Linked DNA regions of Homo sapiens: region 2 is linked to region 1. The links come from fine-mapping of genetic effects on gene expression. Tissue or cell type: blood mononuclear cells. Region 1 holds a variant in brackets; the other region holds the start of a gene. All regions are shown on one strand. Distances are from middle to middle.

Region 1 (8,007 bases):
CACTTCTTTCAGCAATGTTTTATAGTTTTCAGTGTATAGGTCTTGCACATCCCTTGTCAAAAGTATCCCTTAATTTTATGCTATTATAAATGGTGTTTTAAAATTTCCTTTTTTCATTGTTTGTTGCCAGTATATAGAAATACAACTGATTTTTCTATATAGACTTTGTATCCTGAGCCTCTCCTCCCTTGCTTTGAAAATTGAATTTAAAAGAGCAGGAACCTGAAAATATCAAGGGGCAGGGCATTTGCATGACATGATAAACATTTACAATGGCTCTAAAAGCATGAGCATCTTTCTGTTCTAAGTCATAGATCATTTCAGTAGCAGCTCTACAGTAGCTGTGACTGTAAAGGATGGGAAGGAAGGGTGGTATAGTAAATTCTGACCCTACACAAGTAGAACACCTCCAGATCTCTGGGGTACTCTTGAGGGTGAATGGAGCAAGTGGGAATGCAGTGCAGCCCCTTTAAGGAACCCGGCCAGCCAGCCACCCCGCGGGCTGCTAGGAAGGCAGCCCAGGAGATAAGATAAGGCCCCCTGGCAGGTTTAAAGCAGGGTCCTGAGCCACAGTGGCTGGGCTACTGATAGGCAAACAGGAACCAGGGGTGATAAGGAGGAGGTGCCAGCTACTAAATCCGGGCTGGCAAGAGGAGGAGTAGCCAAATCACTCCTCTGGGGCCTGAAAGGAGAAGGGGCTATTAATTGTGGGTGTGTAGGGAGAGGGAACTTGTATTCTCTGTATATCCCATTTATGATCATGGTAAAAAAGAAAAATCCTACTGGGCTGTACTTAAAGGCACTCTGTTTCATATGGAGTAAATGCTCAATAAATATAGGCTTATTGAGTTCCTTATGCTCTAGTGAGATGCTCTGATATGGGGTTTAGAGACTACCTAATTTCTTCCTCAAATGAGGAAAATCCTGGCAAGGACTTACTCTCACAAGCCCGGCGCTGCTCATTTGCACACATCTGCATAGATTTGCATGTGTCCTGCTTGTAGATACTTTTAGATTTCCCCCAAATCAGTTGCCTATTTTTAAAGGATAAAGAGGGAATTTATCTCTTCTTGTTCTTGCTCACCTTCCGTCTGTATCCTCCAAAGACACTAAAATAATTTCTGCAACTTTGAACTATAAACAATAACTGTGGTTGCATAGTTTATGCAGATATGAAGCAGTTCCTTGACTGACAATGTGTTTCTCCTCTTAATCTCTATTACAATTCCTAGTGCTGCTCTCCAAACTTCTGAGTGGCGCAGAGAGACATTAAGGTAAAAAAATAAAAATAAAAACAAACCCTCTAGCTGAACAGCCAGGCTCAAATTGCTTAGAAAGCTTCAAGAATTAGTTCACTCTACCTGGACAGAGCAGTTAGAGGCAGTTCCATGGATCTGAAGACCACCTTCCCACTGCTTCCCATCCCAGGGCTAGGGATGCTGTGACTATCTTTGTCTGCTCTCCTTCCTCCAGGAATAAATAACAATATCATCCCTCCCCCAGATCCCAGTTCCTCTATTGGCCCGCCAGGCAAATATTTCATAATGTGGGCTCATCCAATTGGGCATCGTGCCAGAGCCAAACGCCTCAGGTTGCAAGTGTGCTCCAATCAGGCGGGGCGGCCTGGGTGGGACTAGAGGGCTCTCCTTCTCCACATGGGAGGCGGCAGCATTACTCAGGTGGATGGCATCAAGGTGGGAGTTGCTACTTTCTCAGGGCAGAGTAGAAGGGACAGGGCTGTCCATCAGCCAGCTCCGGCTGGCTGAGGCAACCCAGCACTGAAGGGGTTAAGGCCAGCCAGCATGTGTGGCTGTTAATGATTGCTACCCACCAGGGACCTGGTGAGTATTAAAGGAAAACCTTCTCCCTACTCCTCAGTGTGAAAGGAGTCAGGGCTAGAGGCAGCAGAGGGAACAGCAAAGAAGAGCCGGTGAGTAAGTGGTTATCTGTCTGGTCTATGTTTGTCTGGGTGGCTCTGGAACAGAAAAGGAAGCCTAGATATACCCATTCTATCAGCCAGAGTGGGCTTTTGTTACAACCAGATACAAATTCTCAGCTTGAGGCCAGATTCCAGTATCATTACTATTTATTAGAAGGAAATCTTTAAAATTATCTTAGTCCAAGGGAGTGAACTGCTCAGCGCAGAAGCCAGAGATACAAACCATTGTCTGTCCTGATGTCAAGACAATGGTTTTGTGTGGCCACCCTGAGCACAAAGCTGGAGCTGCTAGTCTTCCTCCTTCTCTCTGAGCCATTGTCTCCAGAGAGGCGCTCGGTAGCTCTGGTCAGAAGCAGCGTCGGCCTCTCTTGTGGGCCGATTTCCTGGATGGGGCCACGGGAGGAAGGTGGAGGGGACAGAGCCACAGGAGACTGGCATGGCTGTGCTCCTGGTTTTATCCTTTTACTTAGCAGAGTCAGGTGTGGTGAGATGTAGGGTAAGACAGAACCTGGCGGGGGTGGGTGCAGAGAGTTGCGGGGAGAACTCTTCACTCATTAAGAAGACAAGGTTGTCAGTTGAGAACAAAACTGAAATCCAGGGAGAAAGAGAACCAACCTTTTGCATTTAGATTTCTGTTGCCCCCATTCCCTCAACTTCCCCTTCAGGTCCCTCATCCCTTCAACCTCCAAAACATTTGTGCTCTTTGACCCTGGCACCTTCTAATGACAGTTTTGTGGAGGGGGTGTGGACAAGAATTCCTTGGCTTGGAGGAGGAGGTGGACGCACTGGCTTTTCTCAGCTGATGCTATCTCTCTGTGTGTGTACTCATGAATGCCCACGTGATTTAAAAAAAAAAAAAAAGAGGGAGACTGTCACCAAAAAGGAAGTGCTTACTTTACTCTCCTCCCGCCCCCAGCTAGGAGCCCTTTTGTTCCCTTGCCTCTTTCTTGGGAGGAAAGAGATTCGATGACATAGTGATGCTAGGTTGAACCTAGGGAGGAACTCGGGGCTCTGGAGAGCCTATTAGGTGGGAACAGGGTGCTCCCTGTGCCAGTTTAGAAAGCAGATTCGAGCGATAAGGTAAACCCAA[C/A]CCCCTTGTGGCTTTCAGCTGTGGTGCTTCCTCTGGCTGGGCTGCCCATGGGCAAACAGAAACCAGGCACAATAGGGGGAAGGTGCCAGCCACTAGACCCAGCAGGGCGAGAGCAGAAGCAGCCAAGTTTCTGGGCATTTGAGGCCAAGAAAGAAGGGGAAGTAGAGTATAGGAGAGGAACGGGGATACTTGTTGTGTTCTGCCTCATATTGAGAGTCAGCCACAAATGTGACTAGCCAACCTCCATCCCTACACTCCCAGGAGAAGTATACTGGGATTGTTATTTCCAGGCAGGGCAGGGGGGCTTCATGGGGGATGCAAACTGTGCAGTTGCCCCACATGCTTGGTTTAATGCTCTGCTATTGCTGTCTTGAAATCCTTAAGTTTTGCACAAGGGGCCCGCAAATTGTGCAGCTGGTCTTATTTCCTGGCCCAGCCAGAAGTTGCAGGTGCAGAATAGTTGCTCATATACTCCAACAGGTGTAGGCAGGCTCACCTGTTACTCAGGTGTCACTTATGGAGGCCGGCTTCTGTCCCGGCTGGCACCTGTGCTGCATCCCTTTCCCTTTCCTCCTCTCTGTTCCCCTCCCAGAGTACTCTATTCCTCCTTGTCACAGCCTCCATGCCCAGTCTTTCTTCACGGCTGCTGCGTGGCAGGACAGGGGTGGGAACAGCAGTGTCCCTTGTCTGACTGCCTCCCTGCCTTCCTTCTCAGGCCCTCTCTTTTCCTTATCTGGGCTATAGCCAGCAGGTTCTCTAGGCTAGGTCTAGGCCTAGGAGCACCTCTTCCGTTCCTCTGAGATTGTCTTCCCTCCCCTCTGTAAGCCCCGGTTATCAGTGGATGCTCTCTGGCACCTGCTTCTTGTGATGTCTGCTTAGCAACAGGTTGTTTACCTGTGATTTCCATAGGATCCAGGTCTGGATGAGTGCTGGGTGGGGAAGGGGAGGTGCAGGGAAGGAAGAATCCTAAGCCTGCTGTCCTTGGTGGTACTTCCTCTACCCTGTCCTCCTCCATGCCAGCTTCTCCTGCTCTGGACCAAATGGCCCCACAGAAGACCTCCCTTTCCTCCTCCTCCCCCAAGCGTCAGCTAGAGGTTGGCCAATCCAGGAAGGAAAAGGAAAGCAGGAGGGAGGAACAGGTCCTCTGTGTCTCCAGCCTCCTCCCCAACTCTTCTTCCTTCTCCAACTCTTCTCTCCCAGCCTCCTTAAGCTGCTGGATGACCTTTTCCAGTGTTTCCTACCAGGCCAGTGCTGTTAGTAATGATACTTTCAAACTGTGCAGAGGAGTCTTAATGCATGTGATTTAAAAATAATGAGCCTGGCCAACACGGCGAGACCGTGTCTCTACTAAAAATACAACAAATTAGCCAAGCGTGGTGGCCCGTGCCTGACGTTCCAGCTACTGGGGAGGCTGAGGTGGGAGAATTGCTTGAGCTCAGGGAGCGGAGCCTGCGGTGAGCCAAAATCGCACTACTGAACTCCAGCCTGGGATACAGAACAAGAACGTGTCTCAAAAAAAACAAAAACAAAAACAACCAAAAAAAAACCAACAACAACAACAAAAACAACAAAAAACCCAAAAAAACGAAAACAATGGATTGTCCAGATTAATTCTGAGTGAACTTTGGAGTATATCATTTCTGATTTTTAACTTTTTGTTGTTGACAGCAGATTTTCCTTTCTTTTTAGCTTAGTTTAGGTCTATGAGGGAACTTGTATTTACTGAAGACACTGAGCTCATCAGCTGGTGGAAGGATACACTGGCTTAGAATTGCATTTCATAGAATTCAAAACTATTAGAACTGGAAGGTGGCTTAGAGAACATCTAGCCTAGTGCTGTCCAATAGAATGTTCTACAATGATGGAATGTCCTGTGACTATTCTGTCCCGTATGGTAACCACTAGCTACTGTGGCTCTTGAGACACAGTGAAATGTGGCTAGTGTAACTAGGAACTGAAATTTTAATTTTATTTAATTTTAATTATTCAAGATAGAATACGGCTAGTGGCTATCAACTTGGTGCAAATTTAGGATAGTGCTATTTATTGTATTCCCTTATTTTATTAATGATTATAACATTAGCCACTACTAAACAACTCAATGTGCCAGGCATTCTTCTAGAGGTTTTAAATATTTAGTCCTCCCAGCAACTCCAGTATCGTTACATGTTGCAGGTGGGGAAACTGAGACCCAGAAAGGGACAGTGACTCAGTAGTGGTCAGTTACCAAGACTCCTGACTCTGAGACCACCGGCCTTACCCTTTTCCTTAAGGACAATCCACACGCTGTCCATTCCTTGCCATCATGTGCCAGCTTTTTTCACAACTCTCCAGTCCCTTTCCAGATCTCCCTCTTCCTCTCGGGGGCGTCAGGGGAGCTCACAAAGGATCGTCTCAGTCTGCAGCAAGTGCTCTCCTAGGCACAGTCATTTTCTGGCTGGTTCCTTGGGTGGCCCTTGTTCCTAGGCTCCCTTTGGATCCCCCACCAGCAGGCAGCAGTGCAGGGATATCGCTTTGCCCTCAGAGTCCTTGGCAAGCTCCCCAAGTACAGGGGAAGTTCCAGATTCCTTGCTCCTGGCAAAAGGAGGTGTTCATAATTTCCCACAATCCACCTGGCTCCAGCTTACCCTATTACTCCCAGTCTGAGAGAGAACATCAGCTGAGCCCTCCTTGGGGGCCGGAGGCAGAATGGGTCTCCCTGGGCAGGTGAGGAGCAGCACTACATTAGAGCCTGCTGTTGCCCCTCAACCCTTGCTGTGCTACCCTCCAGCCAGGAGGCTCCTGCTCTCCAGCTCTGGCTGGTTTACTGCTTTCCTCTTCCCAGGGCAAAGCTTCTGCTTTGTAGACTCTTATCAGAGTCTGGCTGGCCAGTAGGGAGGGGAGGGACAGGAGGGGGCATGAAGCAGATGCACTGTGCACACTGATCCCGGCGAGAGGGATTTGAGGCTGAGCTCCTGTCTCCTTCAGCCGCTATTCAGCATCCCAACTGGAACAGCACGTGCCCCCTCCTCCAGGCAGTGGTGAGCCTGCTGGCCTGCCCTACAGCTGCTCCATCAAACTCAAACAGTTATTCAGTTCCCCTGTGTGTGAGGTGCTGGGCAGGGGCACAGCAATAAAGGCCAGGCTGTGGACAGTGTTTGTGTGGCTGCCCTTCCATGCCCCTACATCCAGGCAGCTGTTGTCAGACTAAAGTTTGTGGGTAGCCCCCAGCCCACATCACACACAGTCCCCAGACCTGTAGCCCACAGATATTACCAGTGAAAGAGTTTGTGGCTTTCATTACTGTGTTCTTGGAGCAGACCTTGAAAAGCTGGCATCTCCCCCTGAACCATGAAGCTCTCTCCTGCTTTCCTAGGGGCAGGGAGCTCAGATTGGGTGCATCGCAGGAACAGAAAGAAGGGAGCCCAAGACTCAAATTTTTCTGACCTCTCCTGTCACTATAGCTGGGACAATGCACCTCAGCTTCCCTGATTCTAAAATGGGCCTTCCTTGCCTCCCTCCCAGTGTAAGGACCAGAGATTGCATGCGTTTTATTTTTCTCTTCATTCCACATGCCTTCAGAGCATCATAACCTTTCTTCCTCTGCTCTCTGGTCCAGTGGGAGATTTGTGTTGTCTGCTCAACAAGGCATCACTCAATACCATTGTTTTACTGTTAAAATGAGAAAACTAAGATACCAGACAGCTTGATTCTCAAATTGCTGGATTGGGAACCAAGAAGGCACTGGTAGCTTTTGAGGATGGGGAAGGAGAGAGATCAGCCAGCTTCATAACTCTCCAAACACCCACTTTGTAAAATTCCTTTCGTTGGGTGGGGCAGGGTGGGGTCGCTGCTCTCCGTAGGACACCAGAAGCAGATCTGCTGAGTTAGGGATGCAGAGACATGGTTTCAATGACCTTCCATAGACCCGGCGGCGGACAGCTGGGCTGCCTCAGCCACTGAAGGGCAGGGGTTTGAGATTCAACTCAGAGCTGGAAGGCGGCGGGGCGGTGGGGGGGCATAATTAATTATTGCCCTGCCCTGTTACCCCTTGGGATCCGTTCCACATTGCTGGCTGTCAGGAGAAGGCAACTTGGAGGCGAGGGGGCTGGGGCCTTTTTTCTCTGCTTCTGTCTGGCTTAGCTACTGAGGAAAGGCTGAGAGGAGGAAAACCCAGAGCTGTAGGCAGCTGGTTCTCCTTTGAATTCCCCCTCTCTTTAGAAGGGAACAAGAGCACACAGCACAAGGAGGAGCTCCAGGGAGCTGGATTGCCCCAGTTCTCCAATTTGGGTCAGGGTGAAGGAGAAAGTGTCTCCCAGCCTGCCCATGGCAGCTTCTGGGTGGTAGAATCGCAGTTCCCCACAATTGGAAGACACTTCAGTGTTGAGACAGTTAAGGACTGGCTGTACCCGGGAATGATATTCAATAATTCATCAACCAGAAAGGATGCTGGCCTGGAGTCTTGGAGGGCCCTGTGGTGCCAGGCATTAACTCTTTTGTCTCTGGGTCATGGAGATGTGAGGAGGTCTCAGACCCTGGCCCAGAGATGGGGCAGGGACACTCGAGGGACTTGGGGGAGCAGCTTTTCACCCACCAACATGGAAGAGCTTCAGTATTTGAATCACTGGCAGAGTTATGCTATCTACTCTGGTTGTCTTCATTTTTCAGCAGACAGATGGAATTCCCTAAAGTAAAACAACCAGTTTAAAGATGAACCAAGCTAGGGTGGGAGGTCAGGATGAAGTTCCCCTGTATAGTATCCATGTTTTCTCTCATGCACACACACGTGCGTGCACACACATGAGCTTGAACCCGTTACCCTGACTGAAGTACACCTTGTCCTCCTGCCCTCAGTCTGCCATCTTAGGCCTTCCTATCTCCTCTCATAGGAATAAGGGACCACCCAGGCCCAGAGCAGGGGCTGGGAGACACTACAGTGAGAAAATGGGGGAAGGACAGCACCTGAGCTGGAAGGGAAGAAACCTGGACCTGGCCCCCT
Region 2 (8,007 bases), 73 kb before region 1:
TTCTGTTGTCTCCAGAAGGCAGACAGGACAGAGCACAGGAGTGCTGGGGCAGCAGTTCTGGTACAGTGACCCCACTAGCTCTAGGCTTAGAAAGGCAGATAACACCCCAGAACAGTAAAGAAGGAGGCGGCCGAGGAGAAAAGGTAGTGAATGTGCTGGGCTTCAAAGAAGCCCATTTGCAGGTGAGGAAAACAGGCTGGATAGTCAAGTAATTTGTTCAGTCAGTGAGTTACTCAGGGATGGAGCTGGGCTTCCAAGTCACACAGGTTATCGTTAGCCAGGCATGGTGGCTCACACCTGTAAGTCCCAGCAACTCAGTAGGCTGAGGCAGGAGGATTGCTTGAGCCTGGGAGATGGAGACCAATCTGGGCAACATAGCAAGACTCTGTCTGTAAAACAAACTAAAAAATTAGCTGCATGTGGTGGTGTGTACCTGCAGTACCAGCTACTTGGGAGGCTGAGGAGGGAGGATTGCTAAAGCCCAGGTAGAGGTGGAGGCTGCAGTGAGCTAGTTCATCCCACGGAGCTCCCTTTGCTGCCCCTAGTTGGCATGTTCTGCGAGGAAGAGAGACCCATGTGGATGCAGTTCCACTGAATGGGCAGTGAGCCAGTCAAGTTAGTGGCCACCAAGACTGTATGGTAGGGAGTGGGGATGGCACCAGAAAGGTGGGGAGGACCCGTGTGTTTGGAGACCATGAGTAGGTGCCTGGGAAGCTTGGACTTGATCCTCTGAGCAATGGGGACCAGTGATTGTAGAGCAGAGGAGAGACGGGATCGCAGAGGTGCTTTCTGTGGAATCCTCCCTCCCTCACGCCACCTCACGCCTTCCCCATTGGAGTTGTTTAGGTGAGGCTTGCTTCTCCTCTTCTGGGCTCGCAGAGCAAGAACTTAGATTTGGCAAAGGGAATTTATTATCTCTGGTCCATCCGCCTCACCTGTCCTTGCTGTAGCTCTAAGATCTTCATGCTACCACATCTCTTCCGCCTTGGTCCCCCAGCTAAAGGCATGCACCCCACACCGACCCTCCCTTTGGCTTCTCATGCCCCTGAAGCTACTCAGATCCCCCAGAAACATTCACATGTCTGGCTCAGGCTTCTCGAAGGATCCGTGGGACTCGTCTGCGGCCCTTGCCCTCTGCCTGCCAGAGAGGAAACCCGCCCAGCAGGCCCATCTGTTGGTCGCCTGCCTTTTCCAGCTGCCTGAGGATTGTGGGGGCTTGGGCTGGGGTCTCTGTCCCCCTCCCCGGCCTCCCTCTGGGATGCTGTAATCTCTTGCCTCCACTCCTTTCCTCCACTGGCTCCGCAGGGTCAGAGACCCCCAAGAGCCCCTCATCTTGGCTGACTGAAAGCAGACTCTCCCCCTGCCTGCACCTGGCAGCCTTGCCAAGTCCTGGAGAGCCAGGGCAGGTGAGTTGGGCTTGATCGGTCCTGCCTGGCACTGGGCCCTCATCCACAACTTGTCTGCCCCTTCAGCAGAGCAGCTTTCCTATAGCCAATGCAGGGCTGGCCTGACATCTCAGCTGGGCAGGGGAACAGTGGGAGGTGACCAAGAGTCCCCCTCCCCAAGAGTGCTGCTGAGCTGCGCCTGCTGCCCTAACCCCAGATTCCTGGCTCCAGCCTGGCCTGCCCTGGGGTGGGAAAGACAGTCCCTTCAGTAGCTCTCTAGGTCCCTGTCTTCCTCCAATGCTGTGGTGTGTGTGAGTGGGGTGTGGAGCCACAGCCTTCACACCAACCAGCCAGGTTCCTCCCAGGCCCTGGGAGGGAAGTCTGTGCTCCTGTTCCTTCCGTTGCACATTCCTTTACAGATAAGGGCTTCAGTTGGTAAAAATGATATATGTACTCAGATCACACTAAGAGAGACCCACTTGTATTGGAGTCAAGAGGCTTAATTTTTTGATCAAGTTGTTCTAATAATAAACAAAAAATGCAATCACCAGGTGAGTGGGGCCTTGCAGACACCCTTTCTCTAGCTCCTGCTTCTTGACATATTTCTCTATTCAGAAGTGACTCCAGAAGCTCATCTGGTTCAGTCCCCAGTTTCCAGGTTTAAGGGGCAGATGGGACTGAGACCAGCGAGCCTGCCTGGAGGTTGAGGTGGGAATCTTTTGGTTTTTTCCATCTTTCTGATCCTGTTTATGAAATCAGTGTTTTTATTACACTTGCCCATTGTCACAGAGAATCCGTGGATAGAGGAAAACTGAGAGAGATGTGGATAAAGGGAAACTGAGGCAGAAAGCAATCTTTGTCTAAGCAGAAACAGAGCTACGACCCTATTGTCTGAAGTCCTTCCTTCTGCCTCTGATCCTGAATAATACAGAACCCAGGTACCCCGTAGCTTGGCTAGCATCCTTGCTCAGGGTTATCAAGACCGATTTGGGCAGGAGCTAGAGAAAGGGTTTCTGCAAGGCCCCACTCACCTGATAATTGCATTTTTTGTTTATTATTAGAACAACTTGATTAAAAAATTAAGCCTCTCGACTCCAATACAAGTGGGTCTGTCTTAGTGTGATCTGAGTACCTATATCATTTTTACCAACTGAAGCCCTTATCTGTAAAGGAATGTGCAACGGAAGGAACAGGAGCACAGACTTCCCTCCCAGGGCCTGGGAGGAGCCTGGCTGGTTGGTGTGGGGGCAGTGGCTCCACAACCCACTCACACCCCACTCATCCTGGCATCTCATAGTGGCCCCCAACCCTCTCCAAATGTTATTTCTCTAAATTCACCATATTGGGGGGGGGGCGGGGGATGGGGAGGCCCCAGGGCCCCAGCCAAGCCCTCTTGACACCTAGAGACGTGCCCCTCTCTGGAGTAGACAGCCACAGAGGTGAAAGGTGATCACCAGGCTGGCTGGGTGAGGCCCCACACATGATTCTAAGACCCTGGGCAGTTTCTGGCTCCCTGCAGTCTCTTGTGGGGGACTCTAAAAATGCAGCTTACCCAGACGGTGGCCCTGCTCCCCTTTGGGGGGCAGCCTTCTCCTGGTGGTGGAAGGCCCAGGAGGCTGTGCTGAGCCACCCCATCCTCTCCCGGGCAGGCAGGCTGCGTGGATGGTTAGCAGCTTGTCGCTGGTGTGGATGGAGTTAAACCTTTTCGGGGACTATTTACTCCTGATCCTAAGTGACAGCTTGGGGAGGGAGAGTCACGTGGCCCTGAAATCCCCGGGGGAGCCGATGGAGCATGCCCAGCTGCCTCTGCCTGGGAAAGATGCTGGATCCTGCAGTAACCACAACAGCATCCTCTCCCTGCGCCAGGGACCTGCCAGCCGGAGAGATGACTGATTAGATCAGATTAGATCCGGAGCCCCGCTCTGCAGAAGGGGGCCCCAGGGGCGGGGGAGGAGGACCCCAGCTGGCCTGAGCTGGGGGGAGGGGTGCCTTGGGGCTCGCAGAGTTAGAGCTTTCCAGCGCGGGGATCACACCTCAGAAGCCGGTGAGTCTGTTTTCATGCATCACATAGATGAGGTGGGAGGAGGAAGGCTGGGCTCTGGTCAGGGCTGGCAGCTGCCTGTCTGCCGCGTGAGCCTGGGCTGCTTGCACTGCGGAGCACTGGCTTCCCCATCTCTCATCCTTGGCAGCCTTACTTGGGGATCATGGATGCTGAGAATGCTAATTATAGCCCTCCCTGTGCCCCCACCCCCACCTCCAGAGTCCCCTGTCAGGGCTGATGCTGTTTAAATTGATTACATTTGAATTGCATCTCCTGGATGAAGGCAGCGTTGGGGCTGGCAGCTTCCTAGGGTCCAGCAGGGGTCCCCCACGCAAGCTAGCACAGAGAGGCCAGCCCACCCTCCCTTTAATCTTGCCAGCAGGAAGGAGAGAGGGAGGGGGTCCAGGGTCAGGCTCAGGTCAGCCCCAGGGACTCACCTTCCTCAGCGTGGGGAGGGGTCAGGGTGTGTATCATTCTTATGAGTCAGAGGTTGGGTCGAAGGGTGACAGAGGCTCTTGGATTCCAATTCCTAGGACGCATCTGAGCTCTGGGGGTCTCAGATTTAGTGGGGAGCTCTTGAAGGAGCTGGAGCCTGGTATGTGGTAGAGGAGGGCAGGGAATGAGGGGATGGCATTTATAATGATGGGACCAGGCTGCAGCCAGCTAAGAGCCTCGAGGTATTGTGTGAGGAGTCTGAGGAAAGGAGGACAGTTGGGGGACTGGCCAGAGAAGGGTAAGGAGGGCTACAGTGGAAGGGGAGGGAAGCGGGGCGAGACAGGAAAGTGGCGGGGGTGGGGGAGAAGGGAGAAGAAGGGAGAAGAGGCTCCTGGGAAATGCTCTTTGAGACAACAGGCCAGCCAGGGCAGGGAAGGGGGCTGTGGAGCCTGGGAGAGCAGAGATGGAGAACCGGGATAGAGGGAGAGCCATCCCCGGGGCACAGGGGTGGGGAGGGAGAGCTGCAGGAGGGTGGAAGGTGGTGGGGAGGAGGCTGGAGCTCAGAGCTGGTGTCAGAGGAGGTTGCAGCCTTCAGGGATTGGAGGCTCTTCCCAAAGCCCTGTAGACCCTTTACCCTCAATCTGATCACTTGAGTGGTGCACTCTGCTGAGGGTCTCCTGCATGGTGGGGCAGGGTCCTGGCTGGCAGGTATCTGCCTGAGCCCACTGTCTGGGCAGGTGCGGGGGCACTGCGGGCACTTGCCCTACAAATCTCCCAAATCCTGTTTTCCAGGCCACCCTGGAAGAGTATGAAACTGAGGAGGGCTCCTGTGGCTAGGACGGTTCAGTCGCCAGCTTTCACCCCCGAGCAGCTGCATTTTAGCTTCAGCAGGACATGAGCAGACCCTGCTGGTGGAGGGGAGGTGGGAGCGGCTAGGCTCTGGCCTGTCTCCAGGTTGGGGTGGCAGGAGGGGCTGAAGGCACCCCTCCTGGCACTGCCACTGGGCTTTCCTTATGGAAACAAGCGAGTTTCTGTGTCTTTGCACAAGGGCACAGAGTGCCGAGCCACAGATATGAATTATTAAAAGTCATTGGTTTTCCAATCAGCGGCGAGGTGATAAATGTGTTAGCACTGGTGTGTAATTAATCCTGGCAGGCTGCTGCACACAGGCTGCAGACAATGGGGGTCCCCACCTGCTTTTTTTTTGCTGGGCTAGGCTTCTTTTCCTCCTTCCTAGGAAGGTGATGGTGCAGGACGCCTTACACAGATAATTACTTTGAATGTGTCTGCCTGGATTATTGAGTTGGATTATTTCTGCTTGTAAATGAAATAATTACTGATCCCTCAGTCAGTGAGGGAGGCAGCCACCTTGGCTCCCGGGCTGACATCAGAGCCCCCACCTCGCCCAGACCCAGCCTGCAGCCTCGGGCTCATAGAGCGAGCTCTCTTGGCCCAGGGGACTGGCCTAGGCCAGAGTGAAGAAGCCGCAACAGCAGATGGGAGCGTGGTGTCAACTGGTGCTGAACAGGCTGCGGTTCCGTTCTCCGAGCCAATTTCCTCATCGTCTTCCTCACTGCCTGTTGTGAATTTGATGAGGTCATTGGCACTGGTCTTGGCGCACCCATGGGGCCCCCCAGAGGAAGGTTGGAGCTGTGCCTCACAAAAGAGCTGCAGGATTCGCACTCCCCTGAGCTCTGGGGTGAGGCGAACGGGCTCAGGAAGCCAGGGCTTAATGAGGGGACTTGAGCAGGCCAGTCTCCAAACACTTAAAGCACATTCAGAGAGGAAAAAAAGACTATATTTTGGGAGACATTTAGAGTAACTGGGAGCAGAAGGAAAAGAAGTTGAGGGTAGGCTGAGTGGAAGCCTTCCCTTGACCATCTGTCTGTTCAGGGGGCTCCTGCTCAGCACCTACAACCTTCAGACGCCCCTCAGAGACTATCTAGTCCAGACTCCCTCCACATCCAGATGAGCCTTCCTCAGCCTCCCTGACAGAAGCAGCAGCCTCACTTGGATAATTTCAGTGACAGGGAGCTCATTACCTCACAAGGCAGCTTCCTCTGTGGCTGGAACATTCTTCTATGTTGAATCAAAATCTGCCGACTTCTAAGTTCCACCCTCTGGTTCTGATTCTTTGAAGCTGTGCAGAACAAGTCACCTCTCTCTTTTACGTGGTCATAAAAATAGTTTTCTTTTGATTAAAATAGTATATAATAGTCCGTGTGTGGATGTAATATATTTTACATGATCATTTCTATATTGGACATTTAGGTTGTTACCTTATTTTCCTTTTACAGATAGCACAAGAGGAACATTTTTGTTCATAAGGCTCTTTCTGTGTTTTGGGTGACTTAGGATAAATTCCAAGGCATAGAATTAATGTGATGAAGGGTGTACATTAAAAGAATTACTATTCTGTGAGTGTAAAAGTAATACATTGTCATTTAAAAATGTAGAAAAACCTAAAGCAAAGTTAAGAATTACCCATAGGTTTGATATATAATTTTAATTTTGGTATACTTGTACTTTTATGAATTCATGCATGAGTGTATGTCTAGATTATCACAATACATATATATCATTAAAATTTTGGCCCAGATGTGTATTATTGTCACTTAAACAGAAAGCATTTTTTCATATTATTAAATATTCTTTAACAGCATTATTATTATTATTAATATTATTATTATTATTTGAGACAGGGCCTTGTTCTGTTGTCCAGGCTGGAGTGCTGTGGTACAATCTCTGCTCACTGCAGTCTCAACCTCCTAGGCTCAAGCGATCCTCCTACCTCAGCCTCCCAAGTGGCTGGGTCTACAGGTGCATGTCACCATACCTGGCTAATTTTATGTATTTTTGATAGAGTTGGCCACGTTGGCCAGGCTGGTCTTGAACTCCTGTGCTCAAGTGATCCACCCACGTCGGCCTCCCAAAGTGCTGGGATTACAGGCGTGAACCACCACACCTGGCCTTTACAGCATCATTTTAAAGTGGCTGTCTCATATTTCATTATATACCTTTTCAATTTATTTGTTGATTTGGCCCCTATGTTAAACTAGGTATTTCCAATTTTCTACTTTTATAAACAAGGCTACAATGAACATATAAATATCTGAATCTTCACACATATCAATACTTTTTTCCCTTAGGTTGCATTTCTAGAAGTGAAATGGCTACATTATTAAAATATTTTGCCAAATACCTCGTTCAAAAGCACTAATTTACATTCCTCGCAGCTGTGTCTGAGAATGGATTTTTTTTGTGTGTGTGTGTGTGTGTGTGTGTGTGCCATGAGCATCAACATTGAGTATTACAACTTTTTCATGGTTTTCATTTATTGCTTCGATCCATCTGTTTGACTGGGAGTGAGACAATTTTTAAAAAGAGACTTATCAAATGTGACATTGTCCATATTAATAACAATGCAATATATAATATGTCCATGTAATAAACATATTTGTGTGTTCGAGTCTTTGGCTTTTCTTAAAAGGCAGTGTGTGCAGAGTCATTAAGATCACAGTTGGCCAGGAATAGTGGCTCATGCCTGTAATCCCAGCACTTTGGGAGGCCGAAGCGGGTGGATTACTTGAAGCCAGAAGTTTGAGACCAGCCTGGTCAACATGGTGAAACCCCATCTCTGTTAAAAATATAAAAATTAGCTAAGTGTGGTGCTGGCTTCCTGTAATCCCACGTACCTGGGAGGCTGAGGCAGGAGAATCCATTGAACCCAGGAGGCGGAGGTTGCAGTGAGCCGAGATCGTGCCACTGTACTCCAGCCTGGGTGACAGAACAAGACTCTGTCTCAAAACAAACAAACAAACAAACAAAACGTAGTTATGGGGTCAAACTCAGGTTGAATCTGGAATCTACCATTTACCAGTGATATGATGCTAACAGTGGCTTTACTTCTCTGTGCCTCAGTTTCTCCATTTGTAAAATGAAGATAATGCTACCTATCTCATAAGCTTCTTGTGAAGATAAATGAGGTTACATATGCAAGCACATAGAATCCTGCTGAGCAGAATAAGTGATAAATGTGTTTGTTATTATTACCTTGTTGATTTGCATGAGAAACATAGATATCTGAAGACAGGTATAATCGTCTCTCTCCCTCCAAGCCCTCCCAAGTCTCCTTGTTCAAGACTA

The links. PIP is the estimated chance that this variant, and not a neighbour inherited with it, causes the effect.
Region 2: it holds the start of PLEKHA6, and the variant in region 1 is fine-mapped to the expression of PLEKHA6 in blood mononuclear cells (TOPMed, PIP 0.97).

Annotation. Positions count from the first base shown.
Region 1 is chr1:204,282,028-204,290,034 of GRCh38, reverse strand. All of the region lies in intron 1 of PLEKHA6 (pleckstrin homology domain containing A6), which reads left to right. Among named protein-coding and RNA genes, the nearest start is that of GOLT1A, 72 kb to the right of the region's middle. RefSeq lists enhancers at 5,531-6,030, 6,031-6,532 and a silencer at 7,117-7,320. The variant C/A (reference allele first, on the strand shown) is at 3,030.
Region 2 is chr1:204,355,116-204,363,122 of GRCh38, reverse strand. PLEKHA6 (pleckstrin homology domain containing A6) reads left to right here and starts at 3,194. Exons shown (of 23, transcript NM_014935.5): 1 at 3,194-3,429. RefSeq lists enhancers at 1-318, 3,306-3,941, 4,057-4,983, 4,984-5,911.